Homo sapiens: one gene and its partners. The protein of the gene in region 1 interacts with the protein of each later gene in a pairwise test. Each region holds a gene or a part of one and is shown in the gene's direction. Other genes may lie near its edges. The genes, in order: ZNF20, VWCE, PECAM1, KRTAP9-2, MTCL2, TRIM23 and VWC2L.

Region 1 (4,371 bases):
ACTGCAACTGCCACTGCTTGGGTTCGAGGTATTCTCGTGCCTTAGCATCCCAAGTAGTTGGGATTACAAGCGCACGCCGTCACACCTAGCCAATTTTTGTATTTTTAGTAGAGACAGGGTTTCGCCATGTTGGCCAGGCTGATCTCAAACTCCTGGCCTCAAGCCATCTGCCCGCCTCAACCTCCCATGGTGCTGGGATTACAGGCGTGACCCACCATACCCAGCCAATATAGATCACTTTTTTATTTTTTTATTTTTTTTTGAGACAGAGTTTCGCCCTTGTCACCCAGGCTAGAGCACAATGGCGCAATCTCAGCTCACTGCAACCTCTGCCTCTGGGGTTCAGGCGATTCTCCCAACTCAGGCTCCCGAGTAGCTGGGATTACAGGCACCTGCCACCACGCCCAGCTAATTTTTGCATTTTTAGTAGAGACGGGGTTTCACCATGTTGGCCAGGATGGTCTCAAACTCCTGACCTCAGGTGATCTGCCCACCTCAGCCTCCCAAAGTGCTGGGATTACAGGAGTGAGCCACTGTGCCCGGCCCTATAAGTCACTTTTAATCAAACCGTTAATAATGTGCTTCTCATTTTTCACTGAAGTCTTATGAGAGAGAAACTCTGTGAAAGTAAAGAAAGTCATCACTGTGGAGAAAGCTTCAACCAGATTGCAGATGACATGCTGAACAGGAAAACTCTTCCTGGAATAACACCATGTGAAAGCAGTGTGTGTGGAGAAGTTGGCACGGGTCATTCATCTCTTAATACGCATATCAGAGCTGACACTGGACACAAGTCATCTGAGTATCAGGAATATGGAGAGAATCCATATAGAAATAAGGAATGTAAGAAAGCCTTCAGTTATCTTGACTCCTTTCAATCACATGATAAAGCTTGCACTAAAGAGAAACCCTATGATGGTAAAGAATGTACAGAAACCTTCATTTCCCATTCATGCATTCAAAGACACAGGGTAATGCACAGTGGAGATGGACCTTATAAATGTAAGTTTTGTGGGAAAGCCTTCTATTTTCTCAATTTATGTCTTATCCATGAACGAATTCACACTGGTGTGAAACCATATAAGTGTAAACAATGTGGTAAGGCCTTTACTCGTTCCACTACCCTTCCAGTACATGAAAGAACTCACACAGGAGTGAATGCCGATGAATGTAAAGAATGTGGGAATGCATTCAGTTTTCCTAGTGAAATTCGTAGACATAAAAGGTCTCACACTGGAGAAAAACCCTATGAGTGTAAGCAATGTGGGAAAGTCTTCATTTCTTTCAGTTCCATTCAGTATCATAAGATGACTCACACTGGAGAGAAACCCTATGAATGTAAGCAGTGTGGGAAAGCCTTTAGATGTGGCTCACACCTTCAAAAGCATGGAAGGACTCACACTGGAGAGAAACCCTATGAATGTAGGCAATGTGGTAAAGCCTTCAGATGTACCTCGGACCTTCAAAGGCATGAAAAGACACACACTGAGGATAAACCCTATGGATGTAAGCAGTGTGGGAAAGGCTTTAGATGTGCTTCACAACTTCAAATTCATGAAAGGACGCACAGTGGAGAGAAACCCCATGAATGTAAGGAATGTGGAAAAGTATTCAAGTATTTTTCTTCCTTGCGTATACATGAAAGGACGCACACTGGAGAGAAGCCCCATGAATGTAAGCAATGTGGAAAAGCATTCAGGTATTTCTCTTCCTTGCATATACATGAAAGGACACACACTGGAGATAAGCCATATGAGTGTAAGGTATGTGGCAAAGCCTTCACTTGTTCCAGTTCCATTCGATATCATGAAAGGACTCACACTGGAGAGAAACCCTATGAATGTAAGCACTGTGGTAAGGCCTTTATTTCCAATTACATTCGATATCATGAAAGGACTCACACTGGAGAGAAACCCTATCAATGCAAGCAATGTGGCAAAGCCTTTATTCGTGCCAGTTCATGTCGAGAACATGAAAGAACTCATACCATTAATAGATGAGAAATCCTTTTAGTGGAAGCAACGGGAGAAGCTTTCTGTTGTCCCACTTCCTTTGAAACACAAGAAAAGAGAGTGGTGAAAGAACCTCTGGATAACTGCTTTTTGAATTGAGAAGAGAGACTTGCGATAGGACAATAAAATCTAGAAGAACTTGGATGGTTTCGTAATACAATTCACCTATAGCCAATCTTGCATGAGATTTCAAAGGCACAGAAAAGGAAGGCATCAGTCACATATTAGAGGCCCCACACAGGGAGAGAGGTGTGTGGCTACCCGCTTCCAGCCCATTTTCCTGATTCTTTGGCTTGTTAATCGAGAATATCCCCCAAATCACTTGTCTCTGTTCCTCAGAGTTGTAGGTCTCCAGATATGTCCCCAGTGCTCCACATTAAAGATACATGCCCACTTTGCTGTTTCTTCAGAAATGTTAAAATGTTTACCAGAGAACTAATAAATGTTGTTATGGCTGGAAATACTCACTGATGCCCAACTCTTCTATAGATTGAGTTGGTTTAAGAGGTCTACTTTGTATTGCAAGCATTGTTGTTTCTACGGATTAGCGAGCCTGTTCTTGATTAAACCAACTAGATGGGAGCTTGTTCCTCTGCTGCATTGTGCAGTGATTGGTCTCACCAAGGGCTTTTATGTGAGAAGAGCCACCTTGCTCTTATCAGGAAATTTCAAGCATTTGCTGTTATTCACAACTGAATGTAATGTCTCACTTCGTTTTTAACTTTGTATGAGTATACCTGACTAAAAACACTAATGCGGTTTCTTGGCAACAAATACTTCTGTTCATGTATTTTAGAAATAAGCTTATTAACTGTTTATAACAACTGCATACTAACAATTATTATTTTTTAATGAAGAAGCTACATTACAACCTCCCATTAACATCATGTATTAGATCAAGTTGATAATGTTACCATGTTATCCGGTGGTCACTGTGAGTCAGTGTTGCCATGTGGATGTCAGGCATATTTTTCCTCATGTAGATTTTACTTTTCATGCTTATATTCTTAGTTTTTATCTGGATCATGAATTTTCATCTATTCTAAATACCAAAGGTGATCTCATGTTCTTATGAGTGACTTCTGACCAAAGACCACCAGTGGCATAAGTGTCGTCAAAGAGGGTGTAATAATATACTGTGGTAATGAATATGACCAAAAGCCATAGATGACTGTGAGATGTGTGAGATATTAAAAGATAGTCACATTTCGTGAGAAGAGAAAAATTTGGGGTATGTTTGCAATTTAAAGTGTTTTCTTCTGTCACATTTCAAGACATGGTTAAAGAATGAGGTTTTTTTTTATTTTAATTTTTTTTTTTTTGAGACGGAGTCTTGCTCTGTCGCCCAGGCTGGAGTGCAGTGACTCGATCTCGGCTCATTGCAAGCTCCGCTTCCTGGTTCACGCCATTCTCCTGCCTCAACCTCCCAAGTAACTGGGACTACAGGTGCCCGCCACCGCGCCTGGCTAATTTTTTGTATTTTTAGTAGAGACAGGGTTTCACCATGGTCTCGATCTCCTGACTTCGTGATCCACCCGCCTCGGCCTCCCAAAGTGCTGGGATTACAGGCATGAGCCACTGTGCCCTGCCAAGAATTAGTTATTTTTGTATTGATCCATCATGGTCACTGAAGAGCATCATCTCACATTGCAGGTGTATGACATGTGCCTGTTCAGGGGCAAAAGACTCGGCCTTCTGGCGAGGGGAGGCCAGCCATCAGACTTCTGGACCAGTTTTTACCATACTATTCTCTAAACCCTGATATATTCCCTACAATTTATGGACATTGTTAACCATAACATACCTCAGTTAAAATCTATAAATTCACTTCTTATCAAGGTATATACTATGATTTTATTTATTTATTTTTTGTAGAGATGGAGTCTCCCTGTTTCCCAGGCTGGTCATTGACTGCTGGATCATGTGATTCTTCTGTCTCCATCTCCCCAAGTTCTGGGATTACAGACATGAGCCACCACAATTGGCTACTACTTTTTTAAAAAAATCACCTTGAGTCCTATGGGGCCAATATGTTTTTGAAAACTGAATTTCCTGCCCAGTAAAGAACAAAGTCAGCATCACTATTCCAATCAAGTCTTTCTTTCTCTGGTAACATGCTGTTGATGCAAACTTGTCAGGAACCCTCTTATGCTAATATTATGAAGCTAATGACATCGTGGAAAAGTCATGCATGGAACAATCCGATCATTTCCTTTAAGGTGTCATGGGTGCTTCTCTTCACAAAAGCTTATTTCAGTCTCCCTAGAGTAAAAATCCCAGTCCCAGCAGACATAGAAGCAATCACTGACTGACCAAACCTTAACTATGTGTGATGACATATGGAAAATACCTTGATTTG
Region 2 (5,255 bases), on another chromosome or scaffold:
AAATTGCATTCATCTTATGTTACAGAATATTTTGGCTCCTACTTGTTGAGAATATGTTGACAAGAAAATGGGCCAAAACAAACAAGGTGAGATACGGCCTCAAGGTGAATGTCTGCAAAAATGTAGCCACAAGCCGGGTGCGGTGGCTCACGCCTGTAATCCCAGCACTTTGGGAGGCTGACGTGGGTGGATCATTTGAGGTCAGGAGTTCAAGACCAGCCTGGTCAACATGGTGAAACCCCGTCCCTACTAAAAATACAAAAATTACCTGGGCATGGTGATGTGCGCCTGTAGTCCCAGCTACTCGGGAGGCTGAGGAAGGGGAATTGCTTGAACCCGGGAGATGGAGGTTGCAGTGAGCCGAAATCGTGCCACTGCATTCCAGCCTGGGCGACAGAGAAAGACTCCATCTAAAAAAAAAAAAAAAAAAATGGGGCCACACAGCTTCAGGTAGGGAGACCACTTGGCAGCTTGTGTTTAAATAACATAAAAGCACAACAAAAAATGCCTGCTTTTTTTCGTTCTTTTTTTTTTTTGAGATGGAGCCTTGCTCTGTCGCCCAGGCTGGAGTGCAATGGTGCAATCTTGGCTCACTGCAACCTCTGCCTCCTGGGTTCAAGTGATTCTCCTGCCTCAACCTGAGTAGCTGGGAATACAGGCGCCCGCCACCATGCCCAGCTAATTTTTGTATTTTTAGTAGAGATGGGGCGTCACCATATTGGCTAGGCTGGTTCTGGAACTCCTGACCTCAGGTGATCCGCCCACCTCAGCCTCCCAAAGTGCTGGGATTACAGGTGTGAGCCACCGCGCCCGGCCACCTGTGGTTTTTCTTTACTGCAAACTCAATGTGTCATAATTAACATCATGGGGTTGCCAAAAACGTAATATTAGGGTGCATTAGTAAAAGTATGGTGTCTGCAGGAAGGAGGCACGAGTCCAGGCCACCGCTGGTACGCCATGTCCATTTGTGGCCACCAATGTTAAGCACCTCAGTAAAGGCAGAGGTAGCAGGAAGGCCAAAGGAACAGGGATTGTTCAACTGGGAAGTGAAGACACTTTAAAACAAATGTGGTTCAAAACTGGATTGGGCCGCTTCTTAACAGATAGTGAGTTTCTTACCCCTGGAAGTATTTAAGCAAAATCTTGACTAATTGTGGGTGGCTAAGGGAAAGATTACTGCATGGAGCAGAAGGTAAAATCAGTTATCCTTTCAGCTTTCTCCCAGCGGGATGATTTTGATTTCCGCACCCCTTCTTTGCCTAAATCCCTAGGCAGCCCCCCAGTCTCTGACCACGGCCTGGGGCAGCTGCAGAAGGGGCAAAGAGGAGCCTTCCAGATCTGCTGCTGCCTCTCCACTGCCAACGGCGCCAGCTGCTTCCTGGTCTTGCCACCAGCAGTCGGGAGGCCGGCCATCTGCCCCCTGGGTGCCCAGAGGAGCCCGGGGCTTCAAAAGTGGCTAGGGCCCCAGGCCAGGGAGCGGTTGGACCCACAGATCAACGCACTCCGGCGTTAGGGTGCAGACCTTCTGGCAGGCTGGGGGCAGGCCTAGAACTGCTCAGCGGCACAGCGACCTGGCGTCGTGGGTTCGAATTTCCACGGTTCCCACCTCGTCACAACAAGGCGTCTCGGGTCCCACCGACAGGGGCCATGCCCGGGGCGCGCAGCCTCTGGTGCTAGCCTTGTTCCCGAAGTCTGTTTCCTCCCGGGGCCTCGGTCTGACGCCTTCAGTCAGCGCTTCGCAGGAAGCCGACTCCCAAACCGGGGCAGGGGGTGTGGGCCGAGGGCGAAACCCCGCCCCCAGGGGTCCCTGATCTTTGCCCCCGCCCCGGGCTCCGCGCCTCTCGGAGAGGCATCAGCAGGCGGGCGGCGTTGCCTTTGTGTGTTTCGCTTCGAGGTGCCAGAGACCCTCCCCACAATCGTCCGCCGCGTCCCCTCGCGGCCCTCGGCCCCTCCTCTCGGCGTCCCAAGCCCCCCTGCTCAGCTCTGCGTGCCATTTCGGGGATCGCTGGTTCGCTCCCCACGGCGCCAGGAGGAGGGGCGAGGGCCGGCAGCCCCCTCTCCCGCGCGCGGCGCAGGAGCCGAGCCCAGCCCGGGGGACCCGCCGCCGCCGGTCATGTGGGCCGGACTGCTCCTTCGGGCCGCCTGTGTCGCGCTCCTGCTGCCGGGGGCACCAGCCCGAGGCTACACCGGGAGGAAGCCGCCCGGGCACTTCGCGGCCGAGAGGTAAGCGCCCGGAGCTCCTCCCCGCTCCCCCGCCCGGGAGAGCGCTACCGGCGTGCAGTCGAGAGGCGCGGAGGGGCGCTCAGGAGCCGCAGGCAGCCGCGTGTCGGGGCTTCCTCTGGGGTGCTATCAGCGCGGGCACAGCTCGGGGACGGCACAAAGAGTCAGCAACTTGTGCCTCTAGGCGGGTGCTCATCGTGCCCCCCTGGCTGGGGCTGTCCAGACTGGGACCTGGGAGATCGGAGGTCCAGGCGTTGGGTGACTCCTAATGTGCCCTGGAGCGCGGACCTCTGGAGAGGGGAGCCCAGGACGTGCCATCTGGTCTCCGGACTGGCTGGCTCACCCCCCAGCGTGCCCGTGGCTCTGCCCGGGCAGCGCCTGGCCTCCCCTGCCGCGCGGGGCTTTCCCTGGGTCTTGGCCCTACGAACTTCATGGACCTTGGAACAGCCGGGGTCTCTGGGTCACTTTTCGTTTTCTGTCCGTGCGTGTGCGCGCGTGGGGGTGGGGTGCATGCCCCTCCGCTGTCTTTCGCGATGGATGCCGCCCTCCGCACGTGCTTTCCCCCGGGCCGCGGTGGGGCCGTGCGCGTGTGTGCGTGATGCTCGGAGCTAGGGAACACTGTGTCAGCAGGCGGCCTGGCCCGCGGCCACGTCCTCCGGGGGGCGCGCAGCGGGGGCGGCCCGGCCAGGCTTGTAGCTCACACGTGTGTTCCACAGCCACCGCCAGTTCCTGCTCAGAACCTGCCCCGACTCCCCGGCGTTCCACAGGCTCCCACCACCTGTCCCTCTGTCACCAGCCCTAGGAGGCTCCTTAGGGCGCTCTGGCGGGTGCTCGGTCCCTGCCCACCTGAGAGTTCGACTCCATCAGCCTCCCTGGGCACCCTTTTATCTGCCGCCTTGGTGGCACTGCCTGTCCGTTTCTGAGAGTCCCAAGGCTCCGCTCATTCGCCCGGTCCCCTCCTTCTCAGGCTGCTGCCATAATCACTCCAGCAAGGGGGTGGATGAGACTTCACTGCCAGCTCCCGCCAGCAGGAGGGCCCCCCCTTTCTTCTGTGATGACCTCAGAGAGGGAAAAAGGCCCCAGGGACAGCTTTCCTCAGACTTTTGTGTGCTGCCATTGCACCCTGAGCTTCCCTTTCCGGAATACTTGTCACATTTTGGCACAGATTTTTCTCCCCAAGAACACGCTAAGTTTGCCTTGTCCCATGTCCCCAGTGCCCAGCGCAGAGTGGGTGCTTTACAAAGTGCCTGCCTCGCAGAATCATCTTCCCTCCGCTCTGAACATTGGTGGAACACCATTGGGAAGGGGTTTCTTGTCCCTTTTCTGTTGCGGTGGGGTTGGAAGCTCAAACCAGGCTGGATTTCATCACCCTCTGTCCAGTCCATGACTGGAGCTGGTTGCAGTTGTCCTCTCTGTCCCCCTCCAGGCCTGCAGTTGTGCTGTTTCCCCTGCTAGAACACCCTCTCCCTTCCTCTTCTTTTGCTGGCTGCCCTACTTTTTTTTTTTTTTTTTTTGAGACAGAATCTTATTCTGTCACCCAGGCTGGAGTGCAGTGGTGCGATCTCGGCTCACTGCAGCCTCTGCCTTCTGGGTTCAAGCGATTCTCATGCCTCAGCCTCTCGAGCAGCTGGGACAACAGGCACATGCCACCACACCTGGCTAATTTTTTTTTTTTTTTTTTTTTTTTTTGAGATGGAGTTTTGCTCTTGTTGCCCAGGCTGGAGTGCAGTGGCGTGATCTCAGCTCACCGCAACCTCCGCCTCCCAGGTTCAAGCAATTCTCCTACCTCACCCTCCCAAGTAGCTGGGATTACAGGCATGCGCCACCATGCCCGGCTAATTTTGCATTTTTAGTAGAGTCGGGGTTTCTCCATGTTGGTCAGGCTGGTCTCAAACTCCTGACCTCGGGTGATCCGCCCGCCTTGGCCTCCCAAAGTGCTGGGATTACAAGCGTGAGCCACCGCGCCCGGCCTGTATTTTTTTTTTAGTGGAGACAGGGTTTTGCCATGTTGGCCAGGCTGGTCTCAAACTCCTGACCTCAAGTTATCTGCCTGCCTTGGCCTCCCAAAGTTTTCTCTCTCACCTCAGCCTAGATGCTGCCCTTCCAGGAACCCCCCCTGACCCTCCTCAGGGCTCCACAGTCTGTCCCACTGTGGCATTTGTCACTCTATGCTGTTATCACCTAGCTCCTGGTCTGCCCTACTTTCCTTGAAGGTGGGGGCAGTAGTTTGTTTATGGCTGTATGGTCACGCCTTACTCAGCACCCAGCACCAGTTGGATGCATCTGGCTTCCTGCCCTTTCTGGACCTCATTCCTGCTTGAACAGACCCCTACTGCCTCCAGTTTTGGGCAGCTCATTCATGACCCCACACCCACCCAAGAGATGTCACCTATGCCATTGCCCTTCTCAACCTTTCCCTCAACAGCCATTTATTGAGCACCTACTACATGCCAGGCACTCCTGTACGTGCTGGGGTAAATAGATAAGAAACCCTTGTCATCAGGGAGTTGTAGGGGAGACAATGAATTAATAAATTAAAATCTAATGTCACAGGAAGTAAATGTTGTGGAGAATAAAGCAAGGTAAGGGTGGACAAGGAAGGCCTCTCTGAGAAGGTGCCATGGGCAGAGATCTGGGTGAAGGGAGAGAGGAAGCCCAGTGTGTGTCTGAGGAAGAATCTTTCTCTCTCTCTTTTTTTTTTTTTTGTTTTGAGACGGTCTGGCTCTGTCACTTAGGCTGAAGGGCAGTGGCGCCAACTTGGCTCGCTGCAACCTCTGCCTCACAGGCTCAAGCCATTCTCCCACCTCAGCCTCCCGAGTAGCTGACCCTACAGGTGTGTGTCACCATGCCCAGCTAGTTTTTGTGTTTTTAGTAGAAACGAGGTTTCACCATGTTGCCCAGGCTGGTCTCAAACTCCTGGGCTCAAAATGATCAGCCTGCTTCGGCTTCCCAAAGTGCTGGGATTACAGGCGTGAGCCACCACACCCAGCCATAAGAACCTTTCTTATAGCAGGAACTGCAAGTGCAAAGGTCCT
Region 3 (4,620 bases), on another chromosome or scaffold:
AGCTCACTCCTGTGGCTATGGGCTGGAGGCCTTAGTTCCTCATCCTGGGTACCTTCCACAGGGCTGCTTATGCTATGACTGCTGGCATTCCCCAGAATGAGGGATCCCAGACAGGAGAGAGAGTGATCAGGATAAAAGCTGCATTGTCTTTTATTACCTGATGGAGTATTTTGTTGGTTAATGTTAACGTGGGAGGTGACCACGTGTAAGTGTGATGAGCAGAGGGCAAGGACCATTGGGGGGGGCATCTTGAAGGGCTTCTATAGCAAGGGAGGTGGTGGTGGTTGTGGCGGTAAAAACTAGGTCACTGTTTTTGTTGTTTTGTCGATGATATTTGTGTTAAGATGAAGAGCTGAGACTCATATCTCAACAGAGTTTATAAAATGCTTTTCTTTTTTCCATCCTGCCCTCTCTTCTCCCTTGTCTGTTCGAGCTAGCCATGGGAATGTGGTGTTCCTGCCAGTGCATCCATTGAGTTCGTTTATTGTTAATTTATTTATTTTCTGAGATGGAGTTTTTGCTCTATTGCTCAGGCTGGAGTGCAATGATGTGATCTTGGCTCACTGCAACCTCTACCTCCTGGATTCAAGTGATTCTCCTGCCTCAGCCTCCTGAGTAGCTGGGATGACAAGTGCCCGCTACCATGCCCGGCTAATTTTTGTATTTTTAGTAAAGGCTAGGTTTCACCATGTTGGCCAGCGGGTCTCGAACTCTTGACCTCAGGTGATCCACCGACCTAGGCCTCCCAAAGAGCTGGGATTACAGGTGTGAGCCGCCACACCCTGCCGAGTTTGTTTATTTGAGCAGATAATGTGTGTTAGAGTTGCTTAGAAAAACAAGATGGTGGACGGGCCCCATGCTAGTGGGTACCATCCCTACTGGAAAAACCACTGCTTGGTGCATTAGCCAAATTTGCTTTAAAATTGTTTTTTAAAAAGGGAGGGCTTTTATAAAAATCAAATGAACTAGGACTGGTTAGTGGGAGGCTCACGCAAGGGTTGTGCTGAGGCTGGAAGGCCCAGAGTAGGAAGAGTTGTGGAGTGCAGAATGAGCTCTCCAAGGGCAGACACTGCCAGCCTCACTGTTCTCTGAACCCCCAGTATGGGGGACAGTGCTTGGCACAGAAAAACCCCCTTAAATGTTTGCTATGAATGGTGCTAAGGAAGAAGGCAGAGAATGTCAACCAGAGGCCAGGCACTGGGCAATATATACACGGCCCCTTCTGTGCCCTCAGCCACTTTGGCGCAGTCACTGTTTAGGTTAAAGATACCAGAGAAGGCAGGTATTCATGTTCCTACTTCGTAGGCAGAGACGTGGTGGCCCAGAGAGGTTAAATAACTCCCGAGATCACCCAGCTAAGCACTGTGGGATCACGGGTTTGAATCTGGTATGTCTGACTCCCTTCTGTACCCAGCACTGTCTGCTGGTCTAGGGCATAACCAGCCAGGGATGGGCAGCTCGTTCAGTAAACAGGAGAGCAGATGAATGACTCGTGTGGAGAGCACGCAGTGGAGTGAGCAAAACTGGGAGGCTGGAGAAGTCGCTTTAAATTAACCTGAAAATGTTTAATATGCTTTTTATTTTGTTTATTTTTTTTGAGATGGAGTCTATCTTTGTTGCCCAGGCTGGAGTGCAGTGGTGCAATCTCGGCTCACTGCAATATCCACCTCCCAGGTTCAAGTGATTCTTCTGCCTCAGCCTCCCGAGTAGATGGGATTACAGGCAACTGCCACCACGCCTGGCTAGTTTTTGTATCTTTAATAGAGATGGGGTTTCACCATGTTAGCCAGGAGGCTGGTCTCGAACTCCTGACCTCAAGTGATCTGCCCAGCTCAGCCTCCCAAAGTTCTGGGATTACAGGCATGAGCCACCACGCCCAGCCTTAAATATGGTTTTTATTTGAAAAAAAAAAAAATCCCTAGAAACATGTAGTGGAGACACAGCTTTAAAGCTCTGAATAGTTGATTTTCAGCTCATGCCTGTAATCCCAGCACTTGGGGAGGCTGAGGCGGGATGATTGCTTGAGGCCAGGCGTTTAAGAATAGCCTGGACAACATAGTAAGACCCCATCTCTAAAAAATTAAAATTAAAAAATAAAAAAAGAGTCGACTTTATTTCTGTAACTGGAAGAATCTAGCTAACATTTCTCAAGCACTTTATAGGTGCCAGGAACTCTACTTTAAGTAATTAAACTCAGGTTCTCATTTATACTTACATTCCTTGTGCCTATTGTATGGATAAGCAAACTGAGGCTCAGAGAAATTTAGGGACTTGCCAAAGGTCACACAGCTTTGTTAGTAGCAGAGATGAGATTTGGCCCAGGTCTGGCTCCGTGCACTTGATTTCTGCTCTTTAGTATCTCCTGGTTGAGTCACTGGAATACACAGCATAGCTTAAAATGAAGGAGGAAGTACTGAAGAGGTAATGGAAGGAGACCTAACTGTCTCTGAGAGGGAAGAGAGTGGTTGGGAGGGAACTATATTAATTGAGGAGTGCAGAGAAATTAATATGGTCCAAAGGAAAAAAAGGTTTTTTTGAGATGGAGTTTTGCTCTTATTTCCCAGGCTGGAGTGCAATGGCATGACCTTGGCTCACTGCAACCTCTGCCTCCCAGGTTCAAGCAGTTCTCCTGCCTCAGTCTCCCAAGTAGCTGGGATTACAGGCGCCCACCACCACACCCGGCTAATTTTGTATTTTTAGTAGAGATGAGGTTTCACCATGTTGGCCAGGCTGGTCTTGAACTCCTGACCTCAAGTGATCCACCCGCCTCGGCCTCCCAAAGTGCTGGGATTACAGGCATAAACCACCGTGCCCGGCTGGTCCAAAGAAAGTTGTGTGTCGAGAGCTCATCCAGCAGGCTTCTTAAATCAGGAGCTTGTAAGTTGCATATAAAGACAAAAAAGGGAGTTCCAAAGAGTAATGCTGTGGGAAATGACTTGAATTTAAACCGTCACCTTGTTTCATCTCATGGACTGGTCAGACACCATTTTTGTTGTCGTTGTTGTTGTTAAATTAATTGCTCAGAATATAGCAGCAGGCGCAAATTGTAGTACTCGTTTTAAAATTGAAGATTAAATTTTAAATTACCCAACAAAGGCCTAACTTTGTTAAAAGAGAGGGAAAGGACAGGTTCTGCCAGTATCTCTGGCCAGCTAGCTAACTAACTTTTTTCTTATTCCAAAAAAATGACTTGGGACCACTTATAAAAATTATGTATTGTTCAATGAGATACAATTAATGAGGAAATCAGGATGAGAGAAAAATAAAGGCAGGGAAATAAAGCTATGGCCCATTTAGCACAAACGCATCCCAAAGATTGCTAGAAGCAGAGGTGAAATTTTTGCTGTGTGTTAACAATCAAAGCAAAAAGAGGAACAAGGTCCATTAGAACATTCTCAGAATCCACAAGATAGAAATGAATCAGTTGTTCAGCATAAACACAGTGTTTCCTGGTGCTGTTGGAACACTTTGTGAAATTAGGGACAATATCTCATCAACATCCCAGACCAACATCCCAAAAGACCATTTAATAGCTTGCATCTGTGCTTCTCCCTACCCCATAGCCCCTCCCTCCAGAGATGACCACTATGCTGACTTGTAAAATATTAATCTTATATCCAGCCACCTTTCTTTTTCGTTTGTTTGTTTGTGTTTTTGCAGACAGAGTCTTATTCTGTCGCCCAGTGCAGTGTTGTGATCTCAACTTACTGCAACCTGTGCCTCCCAGGTTCAAGTGATTCCCCTGCCTCAGCCTCCCAAGTAGCTGGGATTACAGGTGCATGCCACAATGCCTGGCTAATTTTTGTATTTTTGGTAGAGACGGGGTTTCACCATGTTAGCCAGGCTGATCTCGAACTCCTGGCCTCCCACAGTGCTGGGATTACAGGTGTGAGCTGCCATTCCTGGCCTTATCCAGCCACCTTTCTAAACTCACATTTATTTCTAATAATTTGTCTGCAGACTCTTTGAGGTTTTTACATATCATGTCATCTGTCTTTGAGAGTTTTAAACATTGGACTGCTCCATTCACTCAAAAATTTTAAAAAATTCCATGATTGCATTATTCATACTTCATGGAGATAGATGGGGGGCTAAGAAAGCATACCAGACATAGTCACTTTCAATCCCAGGTCCAAATGCTGGATAGGTAGCTTCCTTGAGAATGGGCATGGTAGAAATTTCTGGGGGGACGTGTAGGGATTTGGGAAAAACACCTGGTTTTATGGTCATGGACTTTCAGTACATTTTTTTCCAAATCCCCTACAGATCAATTACTTTTTCTCTTTTTTATACTTATTTAATTTTTTTTAGATGGAGTTTCGCTCTTGTTGCCCAGGCTGGAGTGCAATGGCGCGATCTCAGCTCACTGCAACCTCTGCATCCCGGGCTCAAGCGATTCTCCTGCCTCAGCCTACTAAGTAGCTGGGATTACAGGCATGTACCACACCCGGCTAATTTTGTATTTTTAGTAGAGACAGGGTTTCACCATGTTGGTCAGGCTGGTCTTAAACTCCTGACCTCAGGTGATTCACCCACCTTGGCCTCTCAAAGTGCTGGGATTACAGCCGTGAGCCACTGCGCCTGGCCTCTTTTCTTTCTTTTTTTTTTTTTTGAGACAGG
Region 4 (3,797 bases), on another chromosome or scaffold:
GTCTACTTATATTCTCAGGAAACTCAGTGTTTACTTTCCACTCTCTTCAAAAATCTACATGTAAAACTCAGTGCAATAGGCCTGTTGTTAGAGAGCTGCATGGGCTCTCATGTTTTATGTGTTTGTTAATCAAGTGATAATCTGATACCACTGTCTCGTTATTTGGGATCCACCAATCACACTTTCCCCCAGGTTCTCCTCAATGAATTTAACTGATACCTACATATGCTGATGTAATTTCCTCCTCCTATAATTTGAGTTGCAGATTAAAGACAATTCCTCACTCACGTTTTCTAGATTAACACAATATTGTTGTAGAAATGACTAAGTACAGATTTCAGATAATTGGGCTAGACTTCATTGTTTCTGTCAAAGTAGATAAGAAAGACTACAACTGGGCTACAAGTATCTCCTGGGAGTTCCCCCCATGGGGTGTGTGTGTTTGAAAGGGACCCATGGGATAGTCTAGTGCCCCTGTTGAAAAAAGAACTGTTGATCCCCAAGCCCACACTCTGCAATAGAACTGCTAGAGTATTTCATGGGGCATGAAATTGCCTTTAGAAAAACCAATACAGGGGGTCACATCAAGGTCAAATTGGGCACAGAAGGGTAGGAATTTTGCTATATTCGGAATTTCTTTACTTAGAGAAGGTAGAGGAAATAGAGTAAGAATAGGAGAATATATTTTTGGAATGCAATGATAGTAAATATCCTAAACAAAATATAAGTAAATAAAATCCAATGGCATATACATATGATCGTAACCACATGAATTGTTTTCAGAAATGCAAGACTGGGCTAATATTTGAACATTAATCAACTTTTAAAATAACACATTTTGGGAAGCCGAGGCAGGTGGATCTCTTGAGGTCAGGAGTTTGCGATCAGCTGGCCAACATGGTGAAACTCTGTCTCTATTAAAAATACAAAAGTTAGCTGGGCATGGTGGTGTGCTCCCATAGTCCCAGCTACTCAGGAGGCTGAGGCAAGAGAATCTCTTGAACCCGGGAGGTGGAGATTGCAGTGAGCCAAGATTGTACCACTGCACTCCAGCCTGGGTGACGAAGCAAGACTCTGTCTCAAAAAACATAGAATAAAACAACACTTACTGAAAAGGTAGAATAATCATAACATTATTTCAGCTTATAAAGAAAAAGCATTTTGTAAATTTCAGTACATTTTCAGTTTTCTGTCTCTCAGAAAATAAGGAATAGAACAAGACCTGTTGCTATGATGAAATGAATCTACAAAAAAGACAGAAAGCATCGTAATTAATTGTGAAATACTGAGAGTTCTCCTTTCTATCCAACGAATATAAAAAGATATACACTACACCATTCTATTAGACATTGCCCTGGAGGGTCTACCCCTGGACAAGGGCCAAAAAAAAAGCAAGATTAAAAATACTCTTATAAAGCGAAGAAAACTATTACTATTTTTTATGAGTCATGACTGCACATGTGCAATTTTCTGTCACACCAAAAAAAAATACAAAAAGTATTAGAATTAACAAGCTAGGACCAGAACTCAGCTTGATTTGCCCGAATCTAGAGCACTTACGTCACAGAGAGTCCCATGCTGGTAAACCCTTCAGTCCCAGGCAAATCAGGGTAAATGGCAACACCATCACAGAGACACTCGATGCTTTCTGAATCCCAGTGGACTCCTTTTTCTACCCACCTGCTTTGGTCTAGCTCTGCATTTTGGAATACATTGTGCCAAACACCCTTTCCCTAGTGAGTGTAATAGAACTGGAAGACACAGGTGGAATAGTTTGTAGCGAGAAAGATGCTTGTTACTCTTGAATCAGACTTTTGTGGGTAAATAGGCTTGGTGCCGGGCACGGATTCAATGCATCACTGTGAACATAACAGCATCACGCGACTGCCCACAGACATTTCCCAGTCTACATACAGTCAACCATGAGGCTGGACAGAGAGAACTATCTGCTTCCCGGATCACCAGGAACTATCACATGACCAGATGATGGTCAGAGCAGGAATGATGCTGGTGATGAGACTGCCTTCCTTTTATCTGAAACAAAGTTTTTATGAGTAATTCTCAATTAAGAAACAGATTAAACCCTTACTTTCAAAAGATTCATAAGATTTCAGAAACAACTTCCCCTTTGACAATCGCAAAGGGAGTATGGAAAACAGTGTAAACAACAACAAGGAAAAGTCCTGCTGATTGGTGGAAACTTTGGAGGCCAGATGTATAAAAGGTCCAGATTGCAAGGGGTCATCAGATTCTGGGAAACTCACCTCTGAACAGAAGCCCACCCTCCACCCCTGACACCATGACCCACTGTTGCTCCCCTTGCTGTCAGCCTACCTGCTGCAGGACCACCTGCTGCAGGACCACCTGCTGGAAGCCCACCACTGTGACCACCTGCAGCAGCACACCCTGCTGCCAGCCCGCCTGCTGTGTGTCCAGCTGCTGCCAGCCTTGCTGCCGCCCAACTTGCTGTCAAAACACCTGCTGTAGGACCACCTGCTGCCAGCCCACCTGTGTGACCAGCTGCTGCCAGCCTTCCTGCTGCAGCACACCCTGCTGCCAGCCCACCTGCTGTGGGTCCAGCTGCTGTGGCCAAACCAGCTGTGGGTCCAGCTGTGGCCAGAGCAGCTCCTGTGCACCTGTGTACTGCAGAAGAACCTGCTACTACCCCACGACTGTCTGCCTGCCTGGTTGCCTAAACCAGAGCTGTGGCTCCAACTGCTGCCAGCCCTGCTGCCGCCCAGCCTGCTGTGAGACCACCTGCTGCAGGACCACTTGCTTCCAGCCCACCTGTGTGTCCAGCTGCTGCCAGCCTTCTTGCTGCTGATCACGTTCCAAGAGAACCACCATCCTCACACAACAAATTTCTGCTCAACTGACTCATCTTTTGGGGGACTAATTTAATTTGCTGCTGACAGCCACCATGCTCTCACCCAAATTTTTATGAATTCTCTACATGTTTAAAATCTTGGAAATCTGCTTGAGGGAGGGCAGAATACTTCATCCTGATTCTCTTTTTCCTTACACCTTGTGGATCATGTGCCAGCTTCATCTGTTCTCAAGTTTGAGTCATGGTCTCAGCTTTGACTCTAAAGTCAAGAGCTTCATTCCCTGCTTCTAAGGAATTTAGGTTTCTGCAACTGATCGATGATCTTTGCAATCTTTTTTTTGTTTTCAATATCCTCCTCATCGTTCTTGTATCCTTCTTTCTTCTTTTCATGATAAATTTGTGTTGTGTCCCTGGTAGCAGAAATCCTTACCTATATGTTTCTGAATAAATTCTGAACCATCCTCATCTCATATAGTGTTTTGTTTTATTTGAAAGCACTCCTGATATGGGATTTACACACATATCACATACCATAGTTATTATCCAATTTGATTCTCAAAACAGGTGGTCATGCATTATTACCTTCATTTTTCACCTGAAAAAAAATTAATATGTGATGTTATGTAGCTAATAAAGGACAGATTCTGATCCAAGCTGAGGTCCTCTCTTTCTGCCCAAGGACACTTACATTTAACTCTCAACATAGTAGAAATGACATTGGAAGTCAGCACTAGCAAGACATGCACTTGAGTTTATTTAACAATGAGAGAAATAATCTCTCATATTTGCAAATAATATTTTTATTCACAAAAAAATCCCAAATTATTTTTTCCCACACCTCAGTGAGCAACAGCTGCATGACATGGCAGCAGGGATTGCATTTAATGGCTGCCCTGAATGCAGGGATCTTTTTGTCTCAGCCTCTGACCAGCCAATCATTCAATTCATCCGCATCAAAAAGATGCTTGAG
Region 5 (4,416 bases), on another chromosome or scaffold:
TCAGCCAGACCTTGGTTTTCAGTAAAGCCCCAGTTTCTACTTCCTGCATGCCACTGTGCAAGGCCACTCATCACTGTTCCTGCAGAAGCCTCTGGACGTGGGGCTGGATGGGGTTGAAAATGTTACATGTAAATATTGGTTTGGTTCGGTTTTTAGCATTTTACTTGGTAACTGGTTGTTTTCTTTTTTGGGGTGGGGGGATTGGTTTGTAAAAATTCTCTACTCTTTTGGAATGTGATTTCTAAGTTTGTTGGTTTCTTCAAATGCCTTTTAAGTCTTGGTAACATTCCCAAAGCAGAAAACTGCCTGACCCACAGTGGGGATTCCCTGGAGAATTGGGGTCCCAAGAAGGAATGCTGCCCTTCTCGAACCCGTTCTCCCCCTTCCTCCTGCCTCTCTGCCTTTTACTGCTATTCCCTTCTTCTCCTCCTTTATCCTTCTTTCTGTTTTCCCCATCTCCACTCTCTCTTCAACCAAAGTCCCAAGGAACCCTCGGGGCTCAATCCCCCATAGACCACTTGGCTTGGGTCCATGGGGTTGGCATCAGTTGGTTGGCGGAAATGGGGGACCAGTTGGCATGATGGCCCTAAACTGGGAAACCTCATGTTTCTTATGTCTCACCTCTTTCCAGAGCCAAATCAGCCCCTTTTGGAATGATGACTTCATTGGAATGCAAATCAAGTCATTTTGGTGCATCAGTGGCTCTTAGGCCTGCACACACGAGACATCAGAATCCAATCCTCTGACCCTGTGCCAGCCCTTTCCCCCAGTTTATTTCCCACCAAAGGCTGACCTCTAAGAGGTCTTGCTTTCTATGAACTCAAGATGGGTCCCACCTCTAGGTGTCCCCAGGTGCACTCTTCTACCGGTTGGCTTCCGATGTGACAAGGCCAAGGGCCCAAAGACTTGACCCTCTTACACCCTTGCTGACATGGTTCCATCATGTCCACCCGCATGCACTTTTATGGTTTCATCACCCAGCCTCTTCTCCTCTGGCCCACCCAGCGTCCAGGCTCTTTCTCCCTCTCCCCTCCTATCTAGAATGTCCCCTGCTTCTAGCCTCACCAGACCCCCCAAGCTCCCACTACTTCTTCCATAATAATAGTAATAACAATGGTTATCATCATCCCCTGCACATCCCGCCTAAAGCACTTTACTATATAGAAAACGTTTCCCCTGGCCGGGCATGGTGGCTCACGCCTGAAATCCCAGCTCTTTGGGAGGCTGAGGCGAGCGGATCAGTTGAGGTCAGGAGTTCAACGCCAGCCTGGCCAACGTGGTGAATCCCTGTCTGTACTAAAAGTACAAAAAATTAGCTGAGCATGGTGGTGCGTGCCTGTAATCCCAGCTACTCGGGAGGCTGAGGTGGGAGAATCGCTTGAGCCCAGGAGGCGGAGGTTGCAGGAGCAGAGATTGCGCCACTGCACTCCAGCCTGGATGACAGAGTGAGACCCAATCTCAAAAAAGAAATCGTTTCCCACCCCACATCTCCTTCAGACCTCTCAGGGACAACTCTGGGAGGCAGCCTTGGCAGGACATGGGTTAGTGCGCCCATTTTGCTGTGAGGAAACTGAGGTACAGGTCTCATCCCAGAGCATGAGAAGTCACTGAGTTTAGATGAGAACTTGGGTCCAACTCTGTCCTGTTTGCTGTGCAAATCCGCTGCCCTGCTGGGGGCTTTTGGTGGGTCCAGAATACCCAGAATATGCTGCTGGCCAACCCAGGCATAAAACAAGTCCATTCTAGATCACTGAGCCTTGTGTATTCCAGAGGGTGATCTGAGGTCCCCATTCAGCAGAATTCTCTGAGGGCATGTTCAGAATGTAGATTCCTGGGCCCCACCTTGAATTTGCATGTTTAACAAACTCTCCTGGGGTTGAGGGGTGGGTGCAGTGGTCACACCTGTAATCCCAGCACTTTGGGAGGCTGAGGCGGGTGGATCACTTGAGCTCAGGAGTTCGAGCCTGGCCAATATGGTGAAACCCTGTCTCTACTAAAAATGCAAAAATTAGCCAGGTGTGGTGGCACATGCCTGTAATCCCAGCTACTTGGGAGGCTGAGGCAGGAGAATCACTTGAACCTGGTGGGGAGCAGCGGTTGCAGTGAGCCGAGATTGTGCCATTGCGCTCTAGCCTGGGCAACGGAATGAGACTTGTCTCAAAAAAAATAAAAAATAAAACCAGCCCTCCCCGGGGGATCTTAGGCACTATTGGCCACACCATTGGTGTTCGTGGCCCTGATTATTAGGCTATCTTTCTTTTTTTAAGTTTTTTTAGATTTATTTTTTATTTTATTTATTTATTTATTTATTATTTATTATTATTATTTTTAGAGACAGGGGGTCTCCCTATGTTGCCCAGGCTGGTTTCAAACTCCTGGGCTCAAGTGATCTGCCCTCCTCAGCCTCCCAAAGTGCTGGGGTTACAGGCAGGCATCAGCCACCGTGCCAGGTCATCTTCCTTTTTCTTTTTTTTTTGGAGACAGAGTCTTGCTCTGTCATTCAGGCTGGAGTACAGTGGCGCCATTTCAGCTCACCGCAGCCTCCACCTCCCAGGTTCAAGCAGTTCTCCTGCCTCAACCTCCCGAGTAACTGGGATTACAGGTGTGTGCCACCACACCCGACTAATTTTTTTATTTTTAGTAGAGACGGGGTTTCACCATGTTGGCCAGGCTGGTCTTGAACTCCTGACCTCAGGTGATCCACCCACCTCGGCCTCCCAAAGTACTGGGATTATAGGCGTGAGCCACGGCATCCAGCCTCATCTTTCTTTTAACCAATAAACATGATGCTGTATCTTAAAAAGAGCACTGAGCAGGGACTTAAGGGATCGAGTCCTCAACCAAACTGATTTAATTACTCAGGATTTTCAAAAAGCATCAGAGGCTATTTACAATCTTAATCATAGGGGTTCAGTAAAATAAAAATAAGAAGTAAAAAAGCAAGAGAAATTATTCTGTAAATCTAACTGGTGTAATTCCCATAATCATGCAATTAAGTTTTACTCTTGAGTTTCCTGACAGCCATTGGTAAAAAGAGAAACACATCAGGATTTATAATTTTTATCATCCAATTATGGGAAGCAAGCATGTTGGCCCCAGGAGACGAACTCTTCTACTAATTTATAGCATGTATCCTTTCATCAAGGGCCACTGAGCCAGTTGGTGAGTCAACGGGTGAACCTAAGATGCAAGGATGTTTTCCAGGTGACTATTTAAAAAAATAAATAATCCACCAACGTGATTGACCTTGGCGAGATCATGTTTCTAGTCTATACCTCAGTTTCCCCATCTGTAAAGTGAGGATAATGTCCCACCCCATGTAACTGTGGTGAGGACCAACTGCAACACTGTGCCTGCGAGTCTCCTTGGAAAAGTGTAAGGTTCTACACAAATGGAAAGTGATCTGATCACACTCAGTGTCCCCAGCCCAGCCTTTCAGTGCCCTGGCCCTGGGGTGGGGGACAATACTCTCCTCACCCCCTTCACTAGTCTTCATGAATAGCAAGGAGGCCATAACATAATTTGGTCTAAACCCCTTCCTTTTTAAAAGAATGATGGCAAAATGTGCATAACATTAAATTTACCATTTTAAAGATTTCTAAGTGTCTCGAAGTACATTTGCAATGTGTAACTGCCACCTCCAGAACTTTTTCATCATCCTAAACTGAAACTCTGTACCCACTAAACAGTAACTCCCCACTCCCCCTGTCCCCAGTCCCTGGTAACCTCTATTCTACTTTTTTTTTTTCTCTGTGGATTGGCCTATTCTAGGTATCTCTTTTAAGTAGAATCATATAGTATTTGTCCTTTTGTGTCCAGCCCCCTCATTTTTTGAGATGAGGAATCAGGCCCAGAGAAGGCAGTGGCTCACCCAAGGTCACATCGCAAACCAGAGGCAGAGCCAAGACCAGAACCCAGGTTTCCTGACTCCTAACAGGTCTTGCATCCCCAGTAGTGAATGAGACACTGCTTTGACTTTCTGTAATCTTGGTTTAGCCCCTTCCTTTCTCTGGGCTCAGTCTGCTTCCCACCACTCACCCATTCTTTCTTTATCATCTCCCTCCAAAGCCTCTTGTCCTCCTGCCTCCTCTTCTCCTTGGCTGGTTCCTGCCAGCAAATGGAGTGGCCCTGGTCCATGCCAGGTTTTCCTCTTCTGGGTCCGGAGCTCACTATAGTATTCAGCCCTCAGTCCTCCCAGGATGTTCTTCCCAGCACTGCTGCCTCGTGCGGATTTTCCCGTAACCTCAGTAACTGGCTTCTTGTCCCCCTGCTTCCTACCAGGGAAGCCTTCCTGTCCGCGTCTGTGGTTTCCCAACTCTGATATTTGCTCTCAAATGTGGTGGTGTCCTGGTTCTGTGTTTATTTATTTTGTGTTTTCTCACACACACAAAAAAAAGCCTCTTCCTCCAATGCATC
Region 6 (4,620 bases), on another chromosome or scaffold:
CATTTTTTGAAGTGTAAAATTAAGAGCTTTTTCCTATCTAGGGTTTTTTGCTGTTAACCACAATTCCTATTTATAGATACTGAGGAAATATTTTCTTGCTGTATTATTTACCGAGTTGATGCAAAATAGTCTAGTAACTTTATTTTTGGACCTGTGTTTGGTTTGCTAATCAATGGAATTTTATTAGTGCTTTTTGAAAAATACATTAACAGCATAAGGAAGTTCTTTTAAATCTTTGTATAGTGATGGGATCAGAGATACAGGATTGAAATGAACTAAACAATTTTAATATGGTTCTTTGGAGTTTATTGTCATAAATTTACTTTATTAGAGTATCATAATACAGCATTTATAAAATGTTGCATTTATTTTATATCAAATTCTATTGTGAATTTTTGAGACAGAGCCTCACTCTGTCGCCCAGGCTGGAGGGCAGTGGCACAATCTTGGCTCACTGCAAGCTCCGCCTCTTAGGTTCATACCATTCTCCTGCCTCAGCCTCCCGAGTAGCTGGGACTACAGGTGCCCGCCACCGCGCCTGGCTAATTTTTTGTATTTTTGGTAGAGATGGGATTTCACCACGTTAGCCAGGATGGTCTCAATCTCCTGACCTCGTGATCTGCCCGCCTTGGCCTCCCAAAGTGCTGAGATTACAGGCGTGAGCCACCGCACCCAGCCTATGAATATTTTTTCTATATTTAATTGAATTTTTTTTTTTTGAGGCAGGTTCTCACTCTGTCACCCAGGTGGGAGTGCAATGGCACGATCATGGCTCATAGCAACCTCGACCTCCTGGGCTCAAATGATCCTCCCACCTCAGTTTTTGATTTTTTTTTGTAGAGACAGGGTCTCGCTGTGTTGCCCAGGCTGGTCTTGAACTCCTGGCCTCAAGCAGTCCTCTTGCCTTGGTGTCCCAAAGTGCTGTGATTACAGGTGTGAGCCACAGTGCCTGGCCTAAAGAATTTGATAACGTGAAACTTTCCCCTTTTTAAAAAATGTAGGATAAATTGAAGTATGTGTATATATGAATAATAGACAGAATTATACGTGGATAGCTGTTCCCCAGTTGTTTGCCTTTTTCATGGGGAACCAGTGTTCCAATGTTACTGGTGTCCTATGTATCCTTCCAGGAAGACAATACGCTTATACAACAATACAAAAAAAATTTGCTCTTTCCCCACCTTTATGCAAAAATGAATATATTCTATTATTTTTCTTTTTGTTTTAATCATATGAAATCATTCTGTGTATATATGAAAAACTTCATCTTTCTCACTATCCTATATAGTTTTATAGTATTATGAATGTGCCACAATTTATTTTCCAAGCTGATATTGATGTATATTTACTTTCTTTCCAATTTTTTGCTAATGCAAATGATGCTTTAAGGAGTAACATACAGATTTTGTCACACGTGTCTAGTATGCTTGTAGGATAAATTCCTGCAACTAGAATTACTGAGTTATTTAAATTTGGTAAGTATTGTCAAGTTGCCCTCCATAGAAGCTGTATTGCTCAATAAACATTTCATAGCAATTAGTAATGTATGAGAGTGTCTGCTTTCCCACACCTTCACTAACAAAATGTTACCAACATTTTTGATCTAATCTGAAAAAAGTATTTTGATGTAGCTTTAATTTGCATTTTTCTTTCTTTATTTTTTTGAGACCGAGTGTCATTCTGTCACCTAGGCTGGAGTGCGGTGGCGTGATCTTGGCTCACTGCAACCTCCGCCTCCCAGGCTCAAGCAATTATCCTGCCTCAGCCTCCTGAGTAAACTGGGCTTACAGGCGCCCACCACTATGCCTGGCTAATTTTTTTGTATTTTTAGTAGAGATGGGATTTCACCATGTTGTCCAGGCTGGTCTCGAACTCCTGACCTCAGATGATCCACTCGCCTCGGCCTCCCAAAGTGTTGGGATTACAGGCATGAACCACCATGCCTAGCTTTAATTTGCATTTTTCTTATTATGAGTTAGATTGAACATCTTTTCACGTAAAGAATTTTCATCTTCTTTTCTCTGAACAATGTTATGTTTCTTATTTTTATTCATTTTTATCTTCCCAAACCCTTATTTACATTGAAGGACTAAATTTAAATTTCTTTTGAACCATGATAAGATGCAAAGCAATTATGAATTATCACTGTATGGTGAAAGATATTTGCATCTCAAGCACTAAGTCCAAGTTAATTGTAGAGTTAGGTTTAAAATCATAGTAGATTTAGTCTGATTTCTGCCTTGGGTTTTCTGTTTTTTACCTCGTGTTGTGTGTTTGATGATGGTGAGCTTAATTGTTTTTAAATTATTTTACTGGACTTTATGTAAGCAGTAGGTACTTGGTATTTAAAATACCCAGTTCCTGAGGGTTCTTTGGTCCAACAGGGAAAGACGGGCTAAAAGACCAAGGTATTAAAGTGTTTTGGGTGTTACGGTAGACGCTTATACAGAGTACATCGGGGCCCAAAGGACAAGTATAGTCCTTTCCTCAGTGTTAGCATGAAGAGACATGAAACAGTTTCTCATGTTCTGAGAACTATAAGCTGTTGGATATAGTTGGAGCATAGGGTCAGAAGAGTATGGCAGTGAAGCAATAGGACAGGGACCAGATTGTAGCAGGTCTTGAATGACAGGAGTTTGAGGTATGATTGAATAGTACAGTGTGGGTATTTTTAAAAAATTAATGCAAGGTATGAAACACTACAAATATACTTAGAAATAAGTGCTGAAAATGCTTTATTGCTATAAATACAATTTGTTGACTATTTGTAAAACATAAACTTATGGACTTGAGAATCAGAATATGCTGATAAATGGCCTTTCTTTTGACTGACTGTGTAGCCTTGTGCAAGTCATGTGTCTGTAACTAGAGCTAGAAAGACAAACTAGTTTCTAATTCAGAGCTATATTTATTGATAGAGAACAGGAATTGAAATTTAAGATGATTGCTTTTTTTGCCTTTGTATTATTTAATGTACATTAGATAGTAGAAGATACTTGAAAGTTACTTGCAGTCTTTTCTTAACAAGTTCTTTATCATTTGCAGGGGTAATTGTTATCTCAGTACATATTTTAGATTATTTTTGTTGAAATTAATGATAGTTTATTTGTGTTGAAATTAATGATGGGTTAGGTAGTTGCAGAGAAATTGCTTAAGAACCCACCTTCAGTAGAATTACATATTGTTTGTACAGATTCAGATGTAATGACTGAAATCATAATTTTCAAAAGATAACAAAGATGTTAATTTACAGCATCTTTGCCCCAACACTTAGTATTTCAAAGATATTTCATTATGATATAATTTTGACAGGGTCGGTCAAATGGAATGACTTAAAAGTGATTCAAGATTTTACAACCTACATAGTTTTTTTTTCATAGAGGAATAAAGTAACAATGTTGATTCAATATATTAGGTGAATTTTCTTATATACCTAAAATATGTATGCTTTTAAAATTGTTTAAAGAGCACATCCTTCCTTTTCAAATATTAGGTGCTAGAGTGTGGAGTTTGTGAAGATGTCTTTTCTTTGCAAGGAGACAAAGTTCCCCGTCTTTTGCTTTGTGGCCATACCGTCTGTCATGACTGTCTCACTCGCCTACCTCTTCATGGAAGAGCAATCCGTTGCCCATTTGATCGACAAGTAACAGACCTAGGTAGGAAAAGTATTTGTATGGATTTAAGATTGAAAATTGTTCATGTAATGCAAATGTCATAGGAAACAATGTCCTTCCACTTGATTTTTAGAATGATAAAATTCCCAGAAAGTTTCAGAAAGCCTAAGTTTCTATTAAGGTCAATAATCTTCAAGCTATAAACTATCTCACTCTTAGTTACTAATTTTATTTTATCTTCTGAGATGTTTATATTCAATACTTATCTGTAAAGAGCTTTAAGACACCTGAGAAAAACGTGCTACCCTGATTCAAATAAATAAGAATGTGTATCACAGAGTGAATCATTTGCCTGAAGCCATAAACCCAATAGAACAATGTTTTCTTTACAAATAAATAAGCCAATAATGAAAATACAGATAAGTCATTTGAGTCTCACCATGTTTTTATTTACTAATATCAAGGACAGAAGTGTTTGTAGCTTGTGATAATTACTCTTTATTTTCTGTTAAAATGAGTTTGAAGGGTTTGTGGCTTTTTTTTGCAGTTTTCTGTATACTTTTAAAACTTTTCTTTACGTATTTCAAACTAAGTTATTTTCAGATACCAGATTTGGAAATAATAGCATTTACTAACATTTGAACAGTTATTTTACAAACGTAAGTTCTGTAAGTTTACTCTTTTTGATAAGGGAGTTTTCTCCAAAAGAGTTTAAGGTTGCCATTTTTTTTCCAGGTCAGTTGCACTATCTAAGACAGTTTTAATATATTCATACTATTTTTCAAGTGGAACACATTCAAAATAATTTATCCACCAAAAAAGGAAGCAAGAGTACCTATAATTTTAGGCTGGAAGACTTTGAAATGCTAAGAAACATGGTTTTAAAATATTTTCTGGAGAAAGAAAAGGATTTTTAAGGTTTTGGTGATCTTTGATGTATATAAATAGTCTATTTGCCTGACAACTAATAGACAGTAATAACATTATAGATAGCATTAACTTACCA
Region 7 (4,620 bases), on another chromosome or scaffold:
TATTATTTCAAATTTTCTTTCTCTTAATCACTATGGAATAGTTATGTTGTTTTTGTTATCAACTTTATTTCAAAAATCCAGACTCACATTCACTTAAACAGGTAACTGATGTTGACGCCATTGTTGTTCTTTAATTATGGGCATAAATAAGTAGGAAATCCTTTATAGTAGCTCCTTCCTAAATATAATTTATATTCAACTGTTGGTTTATTCCCTTTCCTTTAGAATTAGATTTTTTTCTCACTAATCTCTTGAGTTGACACAGATAATTATAACATATGTTCCATCACTGACTAGTCCAGTTTAAAGAATAATAGAAAATGTGAGTTCAAATATTCTTGAGCTATTTGTAAGTTACTCCTTGGATCACATTTTGGGGCTCAGTAAAACCATTTCTTTGCAATTTAGATAAAGCCAGACCTATGAAATTCAGAAGGAAAATTCAAGCTGAAGGTTCCTATATAAAATAATCCAAAAGGACAAATTTTAATGCATATATTGCCAAGTATCAACTCTCCAAACCTCACAATAAGGCACAGATAGTTGCATGAACTTAGTCTATTTGAGGACTTAGTATCTTCAAATTGATCCCAAACAGTTTAAGAGCGTGGGCTTAAATGAATCTATCTTCACTTTATATATGTCAAATTATTCTTTTTAAATATTTATTTTCAGCCTACCCCTCTTGTATTCCCATGGAAGGAGCTGAGTATATTTAATATTAGGAGCACATCCAGAAGTCTTTGAAGAGGGGGATGGCTCTTCATATTCATGAAGCTTGCATACTTCTGTTGGTCATCCCTGGATTGGTCACCTCTGCTGCTATCAGTCATGAAGACTATCCTGCTGATGAAGGTGACCAGATCTCCAGTAATGACAATCTGATCTTTGATGACTATCGAGGGAAAGGGTGTGTCGATGACAGCGGCTTTGTATACAAGTTGGGAGAACGATTTTTCCCTGGGCATTCCAACTGTCCATGTGTCTGTGCTCTAGATGGACCTGTTTGCGACCAACCAGAATGCCCTAAAATTCACCCAAAGTGTACTAAAGTGGAACACAATGGATGCTGTCCTGAGTGCAAAGAAGTAAAAAACTTCTGTGAATATCACGGGAAAAATTACAAAATCTTGGAGGAATTTAAGGTATGCGTTACCCTCCATATTTATTGAAATATCAACTTTTCATACCACGTGCTTAGTACATTGCTACATTAAAGTCAGAGTTGGAAAAATGTACTTTAAAATTTCCCTTTAAATTATACAATTTGATTCTAATTACCATAAGTAGCACCATGGTCAACAAATGGCCAACTGGTTTGTTGATCATATTTGTTAAGTTGCACAATAACCTTTATTTTTTTTCCCAGAAGTATTTGGGGCATACCTAACACCTTTTATTTTTGCCCTTAAACATTTCTTCTCTGTTATTACAAAATATGTTTTCTGATGGGAACAATTTTGTGTATAGTGTATGTGTCTCCTAAATTAATTTTTTAATTGTGTCAGTTTTGTGTGTTGCTTATTAGCCTGTATTTGAAGTCATTTAACAATATAGTCTAGAATTATTTGTTTATTGTGTGGAAAAGCTACAGAGATATACTTCTTAGCTGTGGTCCTCATATTAAGAAAATGCATTGGGCCTACTTGTGGTCAAGCAAGATCCCCATTCTGTTCTCTGCTCGCTGGATTTTTTGCTTTCAGGATTCCACAGAGAACTGAATTTTTATCACAATCCATGTAAAGAGTAGTAAAAAAGACTGTAATTTTTTTCAGCCTACCTGGTATTTTTTAGTTTTTCTTTTACGCTTGCGTCATATTTTCAAAGTAGCTTAGAGTTCATTTTTATCCCTTATTGAACTTTCTTTTCCCCAATGGCTAGTTTTAATTGGGATATCCTACAAGCCTGATCTGAACCCTGAAGGTATGAATACATGAAAAATGTCCACCTTAAATGTAATGGCAGTTTGTGCCTGGAGTGTCTGTCATACTGATGGCTTTATATAAAATGTTCCCATTTCATCTAACCAAGTTCTGTGATGAGGTGCTCAGAACCTTAGAGGTAAAAGCAGATATAGCTAGTTTTCAGTGTGGGTGTTTATGTATGAGAGAAGACATTTCCATTATTAGCACTGACCCAACTTCTCTCACCACAAGGGTCAAATGGTGCCAGAAATCAGTATGTAGAAAAAAGGTCTCAACTGATCATCATTAGCATAATCTGTGTATTCATAGTTAATTGTATTTAGTTCATTATTAACCTGGAATGAACCAGGTTAGCGGTTCAAGCCAGTTCTGATTTACCCAAGAATACCCAGTCATTGGAACTAGATTCCTTAGGACAAAAGGGAAATTTTAATTGTGACATTCAACTTCCTTAGACATGTTATTCTCGACTTTTGTCTTTCGTGTATTATTTTATTGCACAAAATTAAGAAGTAAAAGCATGAGAGTCTAGTAAAAGTATCATTGTTGACACCAAATAATAGTTGAGAGTAGAGTACATTTATTAATGGTTTTATGATCTCTAAAATATTGTATATATTTTGACATTACCTATTTTTAATGTCATCTTAATGGAAGTAAGTAGAAGTACTCAACACACTTGATTCTAGCAGTCATATCACCCTTTTCTAACCTGCATTTATATCTAGACTAGAATACAAAAGGGTATTGTAGGAACAGCGTTTCATAACTAGCACAAATAAAAACATAAGTTTCTGAGATTTATATAATTTGGTAATCTGTATTTAATAAAGAAAATATTGTCTAACTTAACTCACTATTGAAAATGCTATAGTTTTCCCTCTATTTATTAGATTTTACTACAAAGATAATAACTATGTTACCATGTCAAACAATATAGAGGTATTTAAAGAAAAAGTTAATAATTTCTGTACCCCTTCTCGTTATAACCCTACTATAATCTAATTAATCCCTACTACTTCTTTCCTAATGTATGATCCATTAATATGCACAGCTTTTTCACCTGGCTTTTTGTGTCATAAAATTTTTGATGTGATTTTTAAAATAATAGATATCACTTTTTTTAACAAGAATTTAGAGTCATAAAGAGTTTTAGAGACTATATAGGGCAAATGTGTCAGAATGAGAAACTGAGACCAAAAAAGTATAAATTACTTATCCAAAATTGTCAAGTTATTTATCTTAATTCTAAATGCTGCCATTCTAACATACTATATGATCTCTCAAAGCAGTTTGTCACTAAGGTCAGATAGACTTGGATTCGAATCCCAAATTCATCACTTGGATATAAATTTTTGAATGGAGTTCTTAAACTTTTTGATCCATAGTGGTATTGACCATAAAATAGCCATTGTAATAATCACTTTCCTTAGGAGGAGAGGTTGGAAATTCTTAATAACATATAATTTCTCTGAAGTCACTAACCTTGTGATGACGGGTACACAATAGGTATTAAATAAATGATTGTCCCCTCCTTCTTAACTCTAATATCCAGGGATTTACTCTAAATTCTAAATTCCTCTATGGCTTTGCCTACATTTTATAATGAAAGTTCAACTTTAAAAGACTTTCAAATGAAGAATTCTCATACCTTTTTAAAATGCTCTACTTATCCCTATGAACCATACAACTCTAAGTAAATATTAGCCATAATCTGTCATCTTGATTCTCTTCCAACTCAGCTTGCAAGGAACAAGTCATTAATTATTAAAGATGCATAAAACTTTCATATAATAATGTTGATATGTCAATTAGGGAGGTTGTATTATGAGATAATCTTCACATAAATATATTCATCCAACAAGCATTTATCAGACCGTTCAGTAGATAAGATACTGTAGACGTACTTACAATTGAAAGTAGGATATCTAGAAACCAAAATCTCTGCTCACAAGAAAGACATGATCGATGTGAAGAGAGAAGGGGGAAAAAGCAGGTAAAAGTTAAGTATATGATTATGAAATCCCAATATAACTCCCAAGAGATTGTGATGGCAGAAGCTTATCAAAATAGTATGAGGCTTGGTTAAGCAAGAGATTTGTCTTCAGGATGCTAACCCTATACATCTTGTAGAGCTGCCTGTTCTTCAAGAAGTACTTGAAATTGATCTGGGAAGACTGAAATTCCAAAGACGAAACTGCCAGAGCAAAATCAGAGATTGGGATGAATACAGTCTGCAAAGAGGAGGGAGATGGGTATAATTGGAAGCTAGATATGACTAAAATGCTATCCTAGTAAGAGGCAAATTCAGATATGTGTCGGTGGAGAGTGGATGGAAGGGCCTTGAATACTGGGCCAAAATATTTAGATTCATCTGAAGAATAATAGGAAATAAAATGCGGATTGTTCTGTACATAGATGACCTAGTTAAACATAAATAAAAATGAATGTCCTATATCCAAGCACAGAATTGAATAGAAGTAAAGAGAAATTAATAGTGGAGGAAGGAAGTCTGTTGCAGAAAAAAAGAGAATGAGGTGCACAAGCACAAAGACATTCAGGACAGTTTTCAGGGTAAAATCTAATTTCCCTGCTGTAGCCTAGATTCTACTCATCAACCTCTCCAAATCCCTCAAACTCTTGGTGGCTTTTTTTCCCTGTGTGTTTGCACTGCTGTTCCACAGTATGGAACACT

What was found.
Region 2: the proteins of ZNF20 (region 1) and VWCE interact in binary tests that used the Homo sapiens proteins (3 or more experiments, as listed by UniProt).
Region 3: the proteins of ZNF20 (region 1) and PECAM1 interact in binary tests that used the Homo sapiens proteins (3 or more experiments, as listed by UniProt).
Region 4: the proteins of ZNF20 (region 1) and KRTAP9-2 interact in binary tests that used the Homo sapiens proteins (3 or more experiments, as listed by UniProt).
Region 5: the proteins of ZNF20 (region 1) and MTCL2 interact in binary tests that used the Homo sapiens proteins (3 or more experiments, as listed by UniProt).
Region 6: the proteins of ZNF20 (region 1) and TRIM23 interact in binary tests that used the Homo sapiens proteins (3 or more experiments, as listed by UniProt).
Region 7: the proteins of ZNF20 (region 1) and VWC2L interact in binary tests that used the Homo sapiens proteins (3 or more experiments, as listed by UniProt).

What each region holds. Positions count from the first base shown.
Region 1 is NC_000019.10:12,130,216-12,134,586, reverse strand, and holds the end of ZNF20 (zinc finger protein 20), read left to right. Parts: intron 1-601; coding exon 602-2,000; 3' UTR 2,001-3,237; downstream 3,238-4,371. UniProt on the Homo sapiens protein: May be involved in transcriptional regulation.
Region 2 is NC_000011.10:61,291,896-61,297,150, reverse strand, and holds the start of VWCE (von Willebrand factor C and EGF domain-containing protein precursor), read left to right. Parts: upstream 1-1,834; 5' UTR 1,835-2,113; coding exon 2,114-2,223; intron 2,224-5,255.
Region 3 is NC_000017.11:64,380,017-64,384,636, reverse strand, and holds part of PECAM1 (platelet endothelial cell adhesion molecule precursor), read left to right. Parts: intron 1-4,620. UniProt on the Homo sapiens protein: Cell adhesion molecule which is required for leukocyte transendothelial migration (TEM) under most inflammatory conditions.
Region 4 is NC_000017.11:41,224,356-41,228,152, forward strand, and holds KRTAP9-2 (keratin-associated protein 9-2), read left to right. Parts: upstream 1-2,292; 5' UTR 2,293-2,299; coding exon 2,300-2,824; 3' UTR 2,825-3,297; downstream 3,298-3,797. UniProt on the Homo sapiens protein: In the hair cortex, hair keratin intermediate filaments are embedded in an interfilamentous matrix, consisting of hair keratin-associated proteins (KRTAP), which are essential for the formation of a rigid and resistant hair shaft through their extensive disulfide bond cross-linking with abundant cysteine residues of hair keratins.
Region 5 is NC_000020.11:36,779,597-36,784,012, reverse strand, and holds part of MTCL2 (microtubule cross-linking factor 2), read left to right. Parts: 3' UTR 1-4,416. UniProt on the Homo sapiens protein: Microtubule-associated factor that enables integration of the centrosomal and Golgi-associated microtubules on the Golgi membrane, supporting directional migration. Preferentially acts on the perinuclear microtubules accumulated around the Golgi.
Region 6 is NC_000005.10:65,617,129-65,621,748, reverse strand, and holds part of TRIM23 (E3 ubiquitin-protein ligase TRIM23), read left to right. Parts: intron 1-3,493; coding exon 3,494-3,656; intron 3,657-4,620.
Region 7 is NC_000002.12:214,413,439-214,418,058, forward strand, and holds part of VWC2L (von Willebrand factor C domain-containing protein 2-like isoform 1 precursor), read left to right. Parts: intron 1-675; 5' UTR 676-755; coding exon 756-1,145; intron 1,146-4,620.